Linked DNA regions of Homo sapiens. The protein of the gene in region 1 purifies or fractionates together with the protein of each later gene. This does not show direct contact. Each region holds a gene or a part of one and is shown on either strand. Other genes may lie near its edges.

Evidence for each region. The genes of interacting proteins can lie anywhere in the genome.
Region 2: the proteins of MIPEP (region 1) and ZFAND3 fractionate together in Homo sapiens (co-fractionation; one large-scale study listed by BioGRID). This does not show direct contact.
Region 3: the proteins of MIPEP (region 1) and FARSB fractionate together in Homo sapiens (co-fractionation; one large-scale study listed by BioGRID). This does not show direct contact.

Annotation. Positions count from the first base shown.
Region 1 is NC_000013.11:23,836,365-23,841,623, reverse strand, and holds part of MIPEP (mitochondrial intermediate peptidase), read left to right. Parts: intron 1-135; coding exon 136-289; intron 290-1,897; coding exon 1,898-1,975; intron 1,976-3,867; coding exon 3,868-4,072; intron 4,073-5,259. UniProt on the Homo sapiens protein: Cleaves proteins, imported into the mitochondrion, to their mature size.
Region 2 is NC_000006.12:38,060,554-38,065,204, forward strand, and holds part of ZFAND3 (AN1-type zinc finger protein 3), read left to right. Parts: intron 1-1,039; coding exon 1,040-1,222; intron 1,223-4,651.
Region 3 is NC_000002.12:222,645,115-222,649,765, reverse strand, and holds part of FARSB (phenylalanine--tRNA ligase beta subunit), read left to right. Parts: intron 1-970; coding exon 971-1,026; intron 1,027-1,640; exon of another isoform or gene 1,641-1,925; intron 1,926-2,769; exon of another isoform or gene 2,770-2,965; intron 2,966-3,419; exon of another isoform or gene 3,420-4,144; intron 4,145-4,651.

The DNA.
Region 1 (5,259 bases):
ATATAAATACACTTTTATGTTTTGAATCCTTCTTTAGCTCCAGTGATCTTAAGTATTAAATGAAAAGTTAATTGAATTTACCTTCAGAAATTGAAATAAACAAAGATGCTGTTGAACCTCTCTTCCTTCTCTTAGGTATAATATTGAGCCCAGCCTATATTGCCCGTTTTTCTCTCTTGGAGCATGCATGGAAGGCCTGAATATTTTGCTTAACAGACTGTTGGGGATTTCATTATATGCAGAGCAGCCTGCAAAAGGAGAGGTGTGGAGCGAAGATGTCCGAAAACTGGTGAGCTCCTCCTGCTCAGCCTGCAGTTGCAGGCATTTACCTTTCGGTTGGGCAGTTGAGTCAACAGCAGTTTCAGGTTTACATCAACTTTGCCCTGACTGAGTGTGTCCCCTGCCTTATTTCTGCTTCACAAAAAAAATCCAAATTGCACTTCTGATTTAAGACACTGTATAAAGGATCCAAACATAAAACAGCAGAGTTTTCTAAAAAAGTTTTTTGGAACTTGATAGAAGGTTGAATATATATGCACCTTCATATATCCACAAATTCTATTTATAGGAAAATTGTCCTTTACTTTGTATATACCTTCATAGCTGTGTGTCCGTTTTGGTTAATTCCCAAATCCATTGGATAAGTGACCTTTTTTCTCTCCAACCCCCATCCCATGTTGTAGGGGCTTATATTTGCATCAGATATTAATTTACGTCCGTGTTCTGATTTATTTAACTTCTTTGATAATAACTTCAAACCTAGCAATCATCTTTCTCCTGTGAAGGCCCACTTTATATGAGGCATGAATATTTTAAATTTTTCCTCATAGGATTTGAGGCTTTGTTGACCTGTGTGTGTCACTAAGGCTTTGTATTGTTTTGTTGTTTGATTTTTGCTAGCATGCTTACCACACTGCTTTCTTCACTATATTTTAAGAAATGTAAACAGTCTCATTGTCTCTCGGCCACGTCTTGTGAGTGGAGAGTAGGTGTGGTGGTGGGATTGAAAGGAGAGTCAGGGTGGGAGGACGTTCATCACTGCATTGATTTACTTCACTATCTGTATTACAAACTTCCAAAAAAGATAGAGATTGATAAAATGCTGAGATATAATAAAAAGAAAAATTTATAAGAGGAGACTGAGAGGACAAAATGCGGGTGATGAAGGGTTTCCCCAGAACTGCAGAATGTGCACTCCACCGGGGTCCAGCACTGTTGTCAGTTGCATTCACTTCTGTATCCTCAGTGTCTTGAAGAGTTCCTGGCACCAAGTAGGTGCTTAACAGATGTTTGATGAACAATAAATATATACTTGCAGGTAGTTTTAAAGCACAAAATCGGGGTTCTCTTTGATGGAATCATTAAATTCTGAAAGAACAAAGAAGGCAAGATGGAGAGTAGTGATTGAGTCTCTCCTATAAGCTATGTCTCTTGGAGAGGGGATAGATAGTAATATTGCTGATTTTTAACTCAAGCTGGGAGCTGCATTGTGGTGTTTTCAAATTCAAGGGTTATAATTTGCTTGGGCGTATATCACGACATTCCAGGATTTGAAGGAAAAATAATTTGCTCCTAAAATTGTCCAGCCAGCACTTCTTCCCAGCTCTTGTGGGTGGTTAGTAAAGGTATTGTAGAGGATAGGCAGTCAGGACAAAAGGCCCTCATGAGGAGGATTTCCTGTCCTGGACACAGAATTCCAAAACCAAAATCATTCAAGAGATGGAGCAGAAGAGGATGCGGGGAAAAGAGAATCTATCTCGAGATAATGTGGGGTGTAGAATGTAATTAAAATGTCTATATGTGTGGCTATGGATGTTTAATATACAGATTCTTGTGTTAGGGATTTTAGAGAATCAGATGGCCTCATTTACCACCAAATTTAAATTTTTTTTTCTAGGCTGTTGTTCATGAATCTGAAGGATTGTTGGGGTACATTTACTGTGATTTTTTTCAGCGAGCAGACAAACCACATCAGGTGATCCTTTCTTTATAAACTGGTCTCTCTAGAACCGATCGGCATTTCATTTGTATTGATGTGAACTTTGTATCATTTTTTAAATTCCATGACATTTAAAAGTTACTAATGATGGTTACCAAATATATACATTTGAAATTAAGATAGAATTTTAAAATTAAAAAGTTTATGGAAATAATTACATCAGTCTATATTTGTCACTTTTATCTGGGTCATGGTATTAATTATAGTAACAATGACAACTGACATTTTATGAATCCTTATTTGTGCCAAACAGTGCACTGAGCCCGTTATACACATCAGCCTTTTAATGTTCGCCTCACCCTTTTGACTAGTTACTCACATTATGAGGAAACTGAAGCCATAGAGGTTAAGCTACTTGGCCAGAAGTGCTAGGACTTGAAGGCATACATCCTGAGCAGATCCCCAACTTTTAACTCTTTTCCATACTCGACAATGAACCTATTCTAAAACTGCGGAAGATACTCCATGTGGAAACCTTACCAACCACCAAGTAGCTCCTTATGTGGAAGACTTGAGGCAGCTCATCTCCTTTTCTTTAGCATTGGCCGACTTTGACAGCCAGTCAGCTTTAGCAGTTTCATGTAGCTTGATGGGAAATGTCAAGAGTTTAGGTTATAAGTTATAACAGAAATAATGTACCTTATGTTTGAATAGTGATTCACAATTTCCAAAGCACAGATTTTAACAGATGTGAGCTTATGAATTCTGGACAGCCACTGTGGGATTTGACAAGGAAGCATTTTAGAGATGAGGCTTGCAGAAGCAAATTATTTTCCGAGATGATTTGTCTAGTAGGTGTGAAAGGTAGGAACAGGGTGCAGGTCACCAGACTCTGAGGCCAGTGTTCTTCCTCTTTGCTTAAATGGGTGGGTGGTGGAGACTCAACTTTAGTGATTAGGAGCCCTGGCTCCTAATAGTCAGCCTGGGTTCAGATCCAAGGTGTGGCAGTTCTAGCTAGGTGTCCTTGGACATGTTATTTAATAATCCTAAGACTAGTTTTAGTTTTATCATCTGAAAAGTGAGATACCTGCTACATAGGGTTGTTGTGGAGAATAAGTGATACAGTGTATGTGAGTCTCAGTGTAGTGCCTGTTTCAGAGTAAGTTATTCTGGCTCCGGATCCCTTGCTTTACACTAGTTTAGATCCCATCTCGTTCAAGTGATAAAAGTCAAGAGAGGCTGGGCGCGGTGGCTCATGCCTGTAATCCCAGAACTTTAGGAGGCTGAGGCTGGCAGATCACTTCAGTCCAGGAGTTCAAGACCAGCCCTGGCAACATAGTAAGACTCCATCTGTACAAAAAAAAATCTAAAAATTTAGCTGGGTGTGGTGGAGCACACCTGTAGTCCCAGCCAATCAGTAGGCCAAAGCAGGAGGATGGCTTGAGCCCAGGAGGTCCAGGCTGCAGTGAACTGCGATCACAACACTGCACTCCAGCCTGGGCAACAGAGCAAGACCCTATCTTAAAAAAAGAAAAAAAAATAGCCAAGAGACATGGAAAGTACCTACTAGTTCATTATCTGACACATAGTAGGGACTCAGAATAAATGTTAGTGTCCCTTCGTAAGTTCTTTGCTGACTTTGTTTCCAGCTTCTGGCACAGCATCATTTCAATGCATGTTTTGGGACCAAAGTAATGAGTTAATCCATAGAAACTGAATGTGTTCTTGATGTTTTAAAAAATTAAAATTTTAGCAGAATAAAAAATGTCAAGAAAAGGTGTATATATGTAAATAGATAGAATAAGAATATAATTAAGTTAAAGTTTGCACTCACACATTTTTGGTGAAATTTTATATTCATTAAGACTGTTTTACTCTTCACATTACCAAATACTTTCTTTTCCTTTTATGTTTTCTGATTCTTAAAGGATTGCCATTTCACTATCCGTGGAGGCAGACTAAAGGAAGATGGAGACTATCAACTCCCAGTTGTAGTTCTTATGCTGAATCTTCCCCGTTCCTCAAGGAGTTCTCCAACTTTGCTAACTCCTAGCATGATGGAAAATCTTTTCCATGAAATGGGACATGCCATGCATTCAATGCTAGGACGTACTCGTTACCAACACGTCACTGGTGAGCCATGAGGAGGGCTTTTATTTACTACAGTCCTTTACAAACATACATTTTCTTTGAATTGGGAAAGGGGCTTTTTATTTGGAAAATGTGATCATTTTACCGTGTCCTGTGGTCTTTATCTCAGATTGCCTCATCCTGCCCTCCCCATGGTTGTGCAGCCTGATCTTCCATGCTTTTTTCCATGCTTGCTAACAGCTTTCACCAGGGAATAATCTCAGTTGTCTTTCAAGTTTGTCCCTTTTTACATTTTACAGTGTTTTATATTGAATTTAAGTTTGTGGCTATGTGTGTGTGAATAAAAACGTATCTCCTTAATACCTCCCACAGAGTTAATAAGTAAGTGAATGAATGGTCTCTCTTTATATTCAAAATCAGAGAAGAAAATAAAGCATGCTTAAAAAGTATGATGAAGTCCTTTTAATTTTTCATATACTTTCCCCTGTATAAAATCATAGTTCTGCTTTGTAGTTTTTATGCTGCTATGTGGCTATATTTTGTGATATTACAGACTTCCTTCTTCATTGTCTTATCCTTAAGTCTTAAGCTCCCTATCACATATGGTCAGCATTAGACCACTAGTGAATTGTTGGCATCCAGCATTTGTTAACTAACTTTACACACAGTATTTTGGACAAGGAGAAGGTATTGAAAAGACTGTAGGTGGGCTGAACACAATCGTTAAATGTCATCTAAATTTCTTACAGGATTTGTTACTTTAAGTAATTTTGAGTTTAAAATATTTCTTTTCCTCACTGAGAATTGACTTTGTTACAAAAAGCAATAAATGGATAAAATAAAGTACTTGTAAAACAAAGGAAGGATAAAAGTATTAGGTAATGGAATTTAGTGAATTAAATACAAACGCTATATTAATATTAGAAATGTTTTAATCTGTTTCATGTATAGCCAGCATAGCTGAAGACAGGTTTGTTTGCAAAAGGTGTGAGCCATGGCTTTATAAGGTGTTTTAGCAGCTGTGCAAATATTTTGTTTTAATTTTGATATAAAGGAAAATATATAGGATTATAATAAACTTTTCTGCAAATATGTACAATAAATTTATAGAAGAAAAATATTGATTTAATGAATTAAAACTTACAGTTCATCAGAAGTACAAATAAAAGTTTTAAAGGGCACACAAAAAGTAGATAAATATATTGATTTGATTCATGCCAACTTTTTTT
Region 2 (4,651 bases), on another chromosome or scaffold:
TCCTGGACTCAAGAGATACTCCCAAGTAGCTGAGACTACAAGTGTGCACCACCACCCTCAGCTCATTTTTTAAAACTTTTAGAGATGAGGTCTTGCTGTGTTGCCCATGTTCGTCTCAAACTTCAGGCCTCAAGCAGTCCTCCCGCCTCAGTCTTCAAAAATGCTAAGATTATAGGCGTGAGCTACTGTGCCCTGCCTGTTCATTTATATTTATTTGCCAGGTACATTTTTTTTTATATACGATTGTGTTATACTTGGGAGATTGGCTACAGGACTCCCCTGCATATACCAAAATCTGTGCATACTCAGGTTCATCAGTCTGCACTGCAGAACCATCGTATATGGAAAGTAGGCCTTCCATATATGATTTTTGCATCCCGTGAATATTGTATTTTTGATCTGCATTTGGTTGAAAAAAATCCACGTGCAAGTGGACCCACACGGTTCAAACCCATGATGTTCAAGGATTAACTATACTTTAACATTTTGTTTATCCTCTCATATTTATGTTTTTAGTATGTCCCTTGTAAATTGAATACAACTGGACTTCATTTAGTCCAAATATTCTGCCTTTTAGCTGATAAGTTCAGTCTGTTTACATTTATTACCATTACTGACATATTTGTACTTATTTCTACCATCTTATTATGTGTTTTCTGTTTACTCTGCTGTTTTCTCTGCTGCCTTTTTCCTTATGACCTTTCCTTCTGAAAAGTTTGAAAAACTATTCTTTATTCCCTTTTTCCTTCTGATTACCCTTAAATTTTTAACATGCGTCTTTGGCTTTGCACAGAATGTTAAAATCAGTATGTTTGCATTCTTCTGAATAATAAGGGACCTTGGAAAACTTTTAACTCTAGTACCTTCCACTAATCTTAAACGTTTTTGACCAGTGTTTTACTCCCATGGTTTTTTAGTCACCCAGATCAGTCTTTATTATTGGTGTTGTTGCATTTAATTTTTGTACCAACTTCCATTGTTTTCTAATCCTCAGAGACTGTGAACTCCTTAATTAAGCTCGTTTTCTATTTTTCTTCAGATTTTCAAAAGAAACAGCCAGACGATGATTCCGCTCCAAGTACAAGTAACAGCCAATCAGATTTGTTTTCCGAAGAGACCACCAGTGACAACAACAATACCTCGATAACCACGCCAACTCTTAGTCCCAGCCAGCAGCCGCTTCCGACAGAACTGAATGTAACTTCACCGAGTAAAGAGGAGTGTAAGTGTCTGGCTTCTGAGGGGTGGTAGAGAGAGCAGCTTAAGAACTTTAGATGAGCATCTTGGTAATGCCTGACCCCAGAAAAAACAGCACTTCTTTTAATTCAAGATAAGTGTCCACATACAAGGCCCAAGCTCAGCAAGTTAGAGAATAAGTTTCAGCCATTCCTGAAGAAATAGCCTTTTATACCGTCAAAGTACATGAAGTTTGAACCAGTCTAGAGAGCAGTGGCTCTCACCTATGTCTGCACATTAGAATCCACTGGGGGTTTTTAAAACAATTTTAATCTTTAGCACCATTCCCTCGTTCTCATTTAATTGATCTGGAGGGAGGCCCAGGGATCTGTTATTTTTAACTCCGCAGAGGATTTCTAATATGCAGCAAGGGACCAGTAAGGGATTCTAACCCTAAAACCCTAATTTAGGAGCCTTAGATTGAAGCTTTACCTCTGTCACTAACTGGGCCTTGACTGTTTCTAAGCATTTAACTGAGATAGCACTATACTTCATAGAACATAGGATGTTTAAAGGAAGGAGGAGATGGTATTACTCTTCTGTAAGTCTTCAGTGTTGGAATGCTATTATGTAGGTTAGAAGTTCACTGTCTACTTAATTTCTTTTTTTTTTTTTTAGATACTCACTCTGTTGCCCAGGCTGGAGTGCGGTTGTACCATCTCAGCTGACTGCAACCTCTACCTCCTGGGTTCAAGTGATTCTCCTGCCTCAGCCTCCTGAGTAGCTGGCATTACAGGTGCCTGCCACCATGCCTGGCTAATTAGTAGAAACAGGATCTCACCATGTTGGCCAAGCTGGTCTCGAACTCCTGACCTCAAATGATCTAACCACCTTGGTCTCCCAAAGTACTGGGATTACAGGCATGAGCCACCATGCCCAGCCCATTGTCTGCTTAATTTTTATAATGTCATAATATACATCTCTTTCCCTCCATCCCCCATCCCTGGCGGTATGTGAGATATACATCTCTTTTAGGGCACAAATATAGTTGATAGTATTTGTTGAAAATTATAGGGATATTATGACATAGTAGTTTTTGCCTTTTAAAAGCTCTACTTGGCCAAGCCAGGAGGATTGCTTGAGGCCAGGAATTTGAGACCAGCCTAGACAACATGGTGAGACTCTTGTCTCTACCAAAAAAAAAAAAAAATTAGCCAGGCGTGGTGGTGTGTGTTTATGGTCCCAGCTACTTGGGAAGCTGAGGCAGGAGGATCTCTTGAGCCCAGGAGTTCAGGGTTACAGTGGACTGTGGTCTTAACCATTACACTGCAGCCTTGTGAGACCTGGCCTTTTTTTTCTTTGAAAGCTAAGTTGAAATTTAGTATTTCAAGTTTCATGAATATCTAGAAACACAGTAGGTTAGAATGTTCTGTGTTCTGTATACTAACTTTGGAAAGGTTAGCAGAAAACAAATATTTATCTAAATCTGTCATAAACTGCTATATTTGGTAATATCGAGAATATAAAATAAGCAAGGTCATAGTCTTTGTCCTCAAAGAATTTGAAGGGGAAATTAAATATATTTGTTGTAGTTTATCAGTGGTTATCAACCAAGAGTGATCTCCCACCCCACAGCCCCAGAACATTTGATAATGTCTGGAGACCAGGAATGCTGCTAAATGTCCTGCATCACATAGGACAGTCCTCTGCAACAAAAAATCATTCAGCTCACGATACCAGTAATGATGAGCTTGACAAACCCTGATACATGTTTGCATACACCCATGTTGGTCCTTATGTATTAAAGACAGCAACTGTTGAAGGGCATTGACCTACTGAGGAAGTGGTGGTAAAGATGGATAGAAGGTGGTGAAGAGACATACTAGACAGAGTAGAATGAGCTGTGGAAGGAAAGCTGCATGGAGTTTCTCAATGGCAAATGACTGTCTTAGGGCCATTTGTGGAAGAGAATGAAAGACAAGGCTGGAAGGGTAAGTTGTGGCCAAGACATAGAGGCTAAATGTCCAGCTAAGCTATTTGGACTTGAGACAGTAGCCATGTTTTTGAGCAGAGGAGGTGATATTATTACAGTTCTTTGGAGAAGTAACCTTGGTTGTATTGAAAATGGAAAGGATTAAACAGGAATAACATTGCAAAGAAAGAATTTTTTAAATATTATAACTTATTGAATAGAGGCCAAGGTGTAGAAATCATATAAGAGGAGAAAAAAAAAAACGGTGAAAATGGTAGTGGTCATGCTAAGGCAGTAGATTTTGTTTTGTTTTAAAAAATCTTTTCAAGATCATGTACTTACTGAGGAGTTGATGACAGCTGTGGCCTCTTGTCCTAGAAAAATATACACCATCCATTTATACCCAATTTTGCATAAAATTTCTCTACAGCTTATTATGGCCCTTGGGTTAAGAACTCCTGGTCTAAGGAAAAAGTTGGTCAGGATCTCATCTGATGGAAACTGGATTGGATTCGTGCATACCAGGATCGGGCCACCACAAATCAATTCAAGCCACCAAAATGCATGTGAGGCTGAGATAACAGTAGCTACCATTTATTGAGCACTTTGTATATGAGACATTATTCTACATGCATATTTTCTCATTGTTTTTCGTGATAACCCAATGAGGTAGATAGTGTCATTATACTCATTCCATAGATGAGGAATTAGACACAAAAAGATTAAGTAATTTGCCTGTGGTCACAAACGAGTAGATACCAGAACCAGGATTCAAATTTAGGCATTTGGCTTCAGAGTTCATACTTTTAATCAGTTAATTCACAATGTGAAATACAACTGTCATAGAGAATAATATTTGTGTGGGCAAGAGGAATGCTTTCTCTCCCTGTCATTAAGATATGTGGAAATCCACATCATAACCAAGAGTTACTTGCCAGTTTAGGCCACTGTAGACTGCTATGGGCTTTTTTTTTTTTTTTTTTTTAATATGAATACCTTCAGCCTGATTAAAGATGTCTAGTTCTACTAGCTTCGTTTCCTTTCTCTCTCTTCTTGGTGACATCATTGCTTTGAACCATTGTATGTTTCTCTTAGACTTATACTCTCTGAAGCTAATCTCTTTCCTAATTCCTCAAGTTTCTACAGATCTAGGGAAATGAGATTTGCCAGTTGGAGATATGGTGATGACTTAAGTTTGTATTGTGTGCAACTGGGCAGGTTGAGTTGGAGCTCAGAGGAGTGAAGTCAAGATTGGCTTCATCCACATGGAGATGATAGTTTAAGCCATAGGTGTTAAGTGAGGTTGCCAAGAGTGAGAGCAAAGAAAAGCAGGGAGGGCTGGGCACATGGCTCACGCCTGTAATCCCAGCATTTTGGGAGGCCGATGCGAGCAGATCACAAGGTGAAGAGATCAAGACCATCCTGGCCAACCTGGTGAAACCCCGTCTCTACAAAAATACAAAAATTAGCCGAGCATGGTAGTGCGCACCTGTAGTCCCAGCT
Region 3 (4,651 bases), on another chromosome or scaffold:
ACTTATTTTATTAATTGCTAATAAACTATTAATTATTGTAGACTCACTGTGTCTCAGGGTACTATGCCAGGTCCATTTTATGCATTAGCATTTAAATCTTTCCAATAGTACCATGCCATAATGGCTGTGAAATACCATTTTATAGATGAGGCAGCTGTAATGTTGACACAAGATACCAAGAAAGTTTACATAAGGTGCCAAACTCTCAGATCTAATAAGTGGGATAGAATTCAAACTCTGATTGACTTGGCTTCAAAGCCAAAAGTGTCAGGCCACCTCAGACCATTTTACCTGATAGGACTTATGTGACATTCTGTTGTGTGAGATCTGTGATTTGGAGCCTACTTTATATCTGATCTCTACTTAACAGGTGAACAGGTGTTTTTCTTCTGTGTACATGCAAACTTCCCAGTGCAGGTAACCTAAACTACAGTTGATATTAGTGTAGATTAATCAAGCCTTTAATAGTTTTTTCTTTTTTTTATCTTAAATTTTTTTGGCCCAGCTTTTTTTTTTTTTTTTTTTTTTTTTAATTTTTTGAGACGGAGTCTCGCTCTTGTCAGCCAGGCTGGAGTGCAATGTCATGATCTCGGCTCACTGCAACCTCTGCCTCCCAGGTTCAAGCAATTCTCCTGCCTCAGCCTCCCAAGTAGCTGGGATTACAGGCATGCGCCACCATGCCTGGCTAATTTTGTATTTTTAGTAGAGACAGGGTTTCACCGTGTTGGCCAGGCTGGTTTCAAACTCCTGACCTCAGATGATCCACACACATTGGCCTCCCAAAGTGCTGGGATTACAGGCATGAGCCACCATGCCTGGCCTGTTTGTTTTTAAATGATAATATGTGATGCCTGATATTTAGTAGTATGATTGGTGTAAGGCAATTAGTAATAAGAAAATGCAGTTTGTATGTAGTTTTCACTTATACTGAACAGAGTGAAATTAACCATCTCCTTTTTTATTTTCCTAGCTGACGAAGAATTTGATGAACTATGTTTTGAATTTGGTCTGGAGCTTGATGAAATTGTATGTATTGGATATTTGTCTATTTTTCAAAGATTGTGTGCATAAGCTTATTTTTCAGGGTTATACTGTATTTCATCTTTGTTACCTTATAGTTAGACTAAGGTGATAATGTTTGTGGGCCATGATTTCTGTGTTCAGAGGGCTAAGCTCCATGTCTGTCTGTTGCCTTGACTAAAATCTCAAAAGGAGTTCATGCCTTATTCCATCTACAATCACCTTGTTACCAGGCTCATGCTGTGGAAATGGATAGAATGTGTTAGATAACCCCAGTATGAAAGTAAGCTCCCTCCTTTGGCAAATTAATCACAGAAAGGGACCAAGAAGCAGTAGAAATGTTGCTTCAACCAGAGTTACCCTGCCTCCTTCACTTCCAGCGCCTCCTCCTTCAGCTCCTCTGCCCCCATAACCTTCCTCCGTGCCTCTTCAACCAGTACTAATGCATTACTATATTCATTGGTCTTGTAAAATGAACTAATATTTTTTAAGGACTTGCTTATAAAAATGAGGAAGCATTTTCTTTGACTTTTGATTGTATAATGATTACAATATTTAAAAAAATCAAGTCGGCTATACATTTTAATATTGTTAATAATGATTATCTATTAAAGACATACTTTAATTTGGTGGGGTTGGGGGTCTGAGTCCTTCCTCGCGGGGGCTTGATGGGTCCTGAGCATCCTCTGGCCGGGGTTTCTGATCCATCTGCTCCAGCATAAGTTCACAAAGTACAGTCCGCAGGCCAGCAGCATCATCTGGGAACTTAGGAAAAAACCAGCCCTACTGAACCAGAAACTGGGGATGTGGCCCAAGCAACCTTTTACCAAGCCCTCCAGGTGATTATAATGCAAGGAGAGACGAGGTTTTACCATGTTGGCCAGGCTGGTTCTCGAACTGCTGACCTCAAGTGATCCACTGCTTTGGCCTCCCAAAGTGCTGAGATTACAGGTGTGAGCCACCATGCCTGGCCCAATGTGCTTTATATAGTTTCACTCTGTTGCCCAGGCTGGAGTGCGACAGCGCGATCTTGGCTCACCACAACCTCCTCCTCTTGGGTTCAGGCGATTCTCCTGCCTCAGCCTCCTGAGTAGCTGGGATTACAGGAAGGAGTCCTTATCTTGGACCTGAGGCTGCTTTCTTGAAGAAAACTTGACTTTATTTCATTTAGTGGGAAGAGCAGCAGCCCAGCTAATAAGTTCTAATATGCAATAGGCTGCAGGCTGTGAAGTCTGAAGCTAAGGAGCTGAGGGCTTAACAAGTTTCTAGAAGCTGCCATCAACATGCCAAGTCAGTAAAACTGAAAGCTGGTCAGATTTCAAGGTCTGGGGAGGAATCCACTGCATAGTGGGTCTTGAGCTCTAGAGAGCTAGGCCTTGCTAAAATAAAAGAATTACCTTACCTACCATCTTTGTTCCAGGCTCCGTAGAATTTGTGACAGCCCTGGCTGACCTCCGAGCAGAGGCTAGCTGTCCCATCTGTCTGGACTACTTGAAAGACCCAGTGACCATCAGCTGTGGGCATAACTTCTGTCTCTCCTGCATCATTATGTCCTGGAAGGATCTAGATGATAGTTTCCCCTGCCCCTTTTGCCACTTGTGCTGTCCAGAAAGGAAATTTATAAGCAATCCCCAGCTGGGTAGTTTGACTGAAATTGCTAAGCAACTCCAGCTAAGAAGCAAGAGGAAGAGGCAGGAAGAGAAGCATGTGTGTAAGAAGCATAATCAGGTTTTGACTTTCTTCTCTCAGAAAGACCTAGAGCTTTTATGTCCAAGGTGCAGTTTGTCCACTGATCACCAGCATCGCTGTGTTTGGCCCATAAAGAAGGCTGCCTCCTATCAGGAAAAAACTGGAGCAATACAATGCACCGTGGAAGGAGAGAGTGGAACTAATTGAAAAAGTCATAACTATACAAACCAGAAAATCACTGGAACTGAAGAAAAAGGTAAAACATACGGCAGAAGAAGTCAAGTCTGAATTTGAGCAACTTAGGTTATTTCTGCAAAATGAGCAAGAGACTGTTTTTGGGCAATTACAAGATGACGAGATGGATATTTTAGCACAACTAAATGAAAGCCTAACAAAATTTTCAGATTATACCTCCTCATTAAAATATCTACTAAAGAAGATAGAGAGCATATATGTGAAGTCAGAACTGGAATTACTGGCTGATGTTAAGGATATCTATCACAGACATAAGAATTTAAAATTCCCTAAACCTTTTTTATTCAAATTAAAAGAATATGGTTACCATCTGTCTCCACAATATTGTGGCCAAAACAAAATTATCAAGCGATTTCAAGTAGATGTAATTCTAGATCCTGAAGCAGCACATCGTAAACTTATAGTCTCAGAAGATAGAAAAACTGTGCGATATGGAAATACAACACAAAACTTACCTCATAACCCAAGAAGATTTTATCTGCTCCCAGCTGTTCTGGGTTCTAAGGGATAAAATTGTGGCAGGCAGTACCGGGAAGTAGAAGTTAAAGACATGCCTGAATGGATTCTTGGTGTCTGTAGTGACTCTCCTCCCACAAGGAGGAAGAGTCAACCAATTTTAGTACAGGATGGATTATGGAGAATTTGGTAATCTAGTCGGAATAATTATATTGTATTGGGCCATAAGGAAATTATTCTGCTGCCAAAAGTAACACCTAGTAAGATTGGCATTTTTTTAGACTGTGAAATGAATGAGGTTTCCTTTTATAATTTGAATGATAGATCTCTTCTCTGTACTTTTAATGATGATTTTACAGGAGAACTTTGGCCTTATTTTTATACTGGAACTGACTCAAAACCTCTTAAAATTTCTACAGTAACAGATTCTGTATTTTCTTTCACCTAGTAGACATAACTGAGCCAGTTAATCTAGTTTTGGCCATTCTGTATTTTGTCCAGTTTTTCTCATAAAAAAACAATATTTTTTATCTCAATTTCAGCAACTTCCAAAAAATGTGATTATGGGACCTACTTTATAATAAATTATGGGGTCAATGACAAAGTACTTTAGAAATTCTATGGTAAAATACTTGAAAAATATATTACTGAAGGAACGTATTATGTAAGAAAATCTATTACTTTTGTAATTGCCAATAAAAGCCCAATTTTTTTCTCAAAAAAAAAAAAAGACATACTTTAATTTAAAAGATAATTTTCTGATAGTTAGTATTATTTTTTTCCTAAGCCTTCTATCTTCACCTATTCAGTGCTTTTATAACACTACCTTAGGTGTAAAGTTAAAAAATGTTCAGGCTAAAAAATTGTACATTATCTTACCTTATTTTTCCTGCTGCCTTACTAATGTTACAGAAAGATCATCTTTGTACTAATCTATTTGTATACTTGAGAAATTGGCTGAGATTTCTGTAGTTTATAAGTTGCTATTCGTAATTTTACTACACCTCAGAATTATGTTTGAAATTATGTGATATCTAAGAGTGTTGGACTGGATGTTAGATTATTTGAGTTCTAGTTCTAACATTTACTAGCTGTGTAACTATGGACAATTACTTTGCCTGTCTGAACTCTATAGTCCAGACGAGTCTCTCTGGGCCTCCTTTTCATTTGTGAAATAAGGGGTTTGGATTATATGATCTTTATGGTTTTCTTTTTTGACTCTGAAATTTAT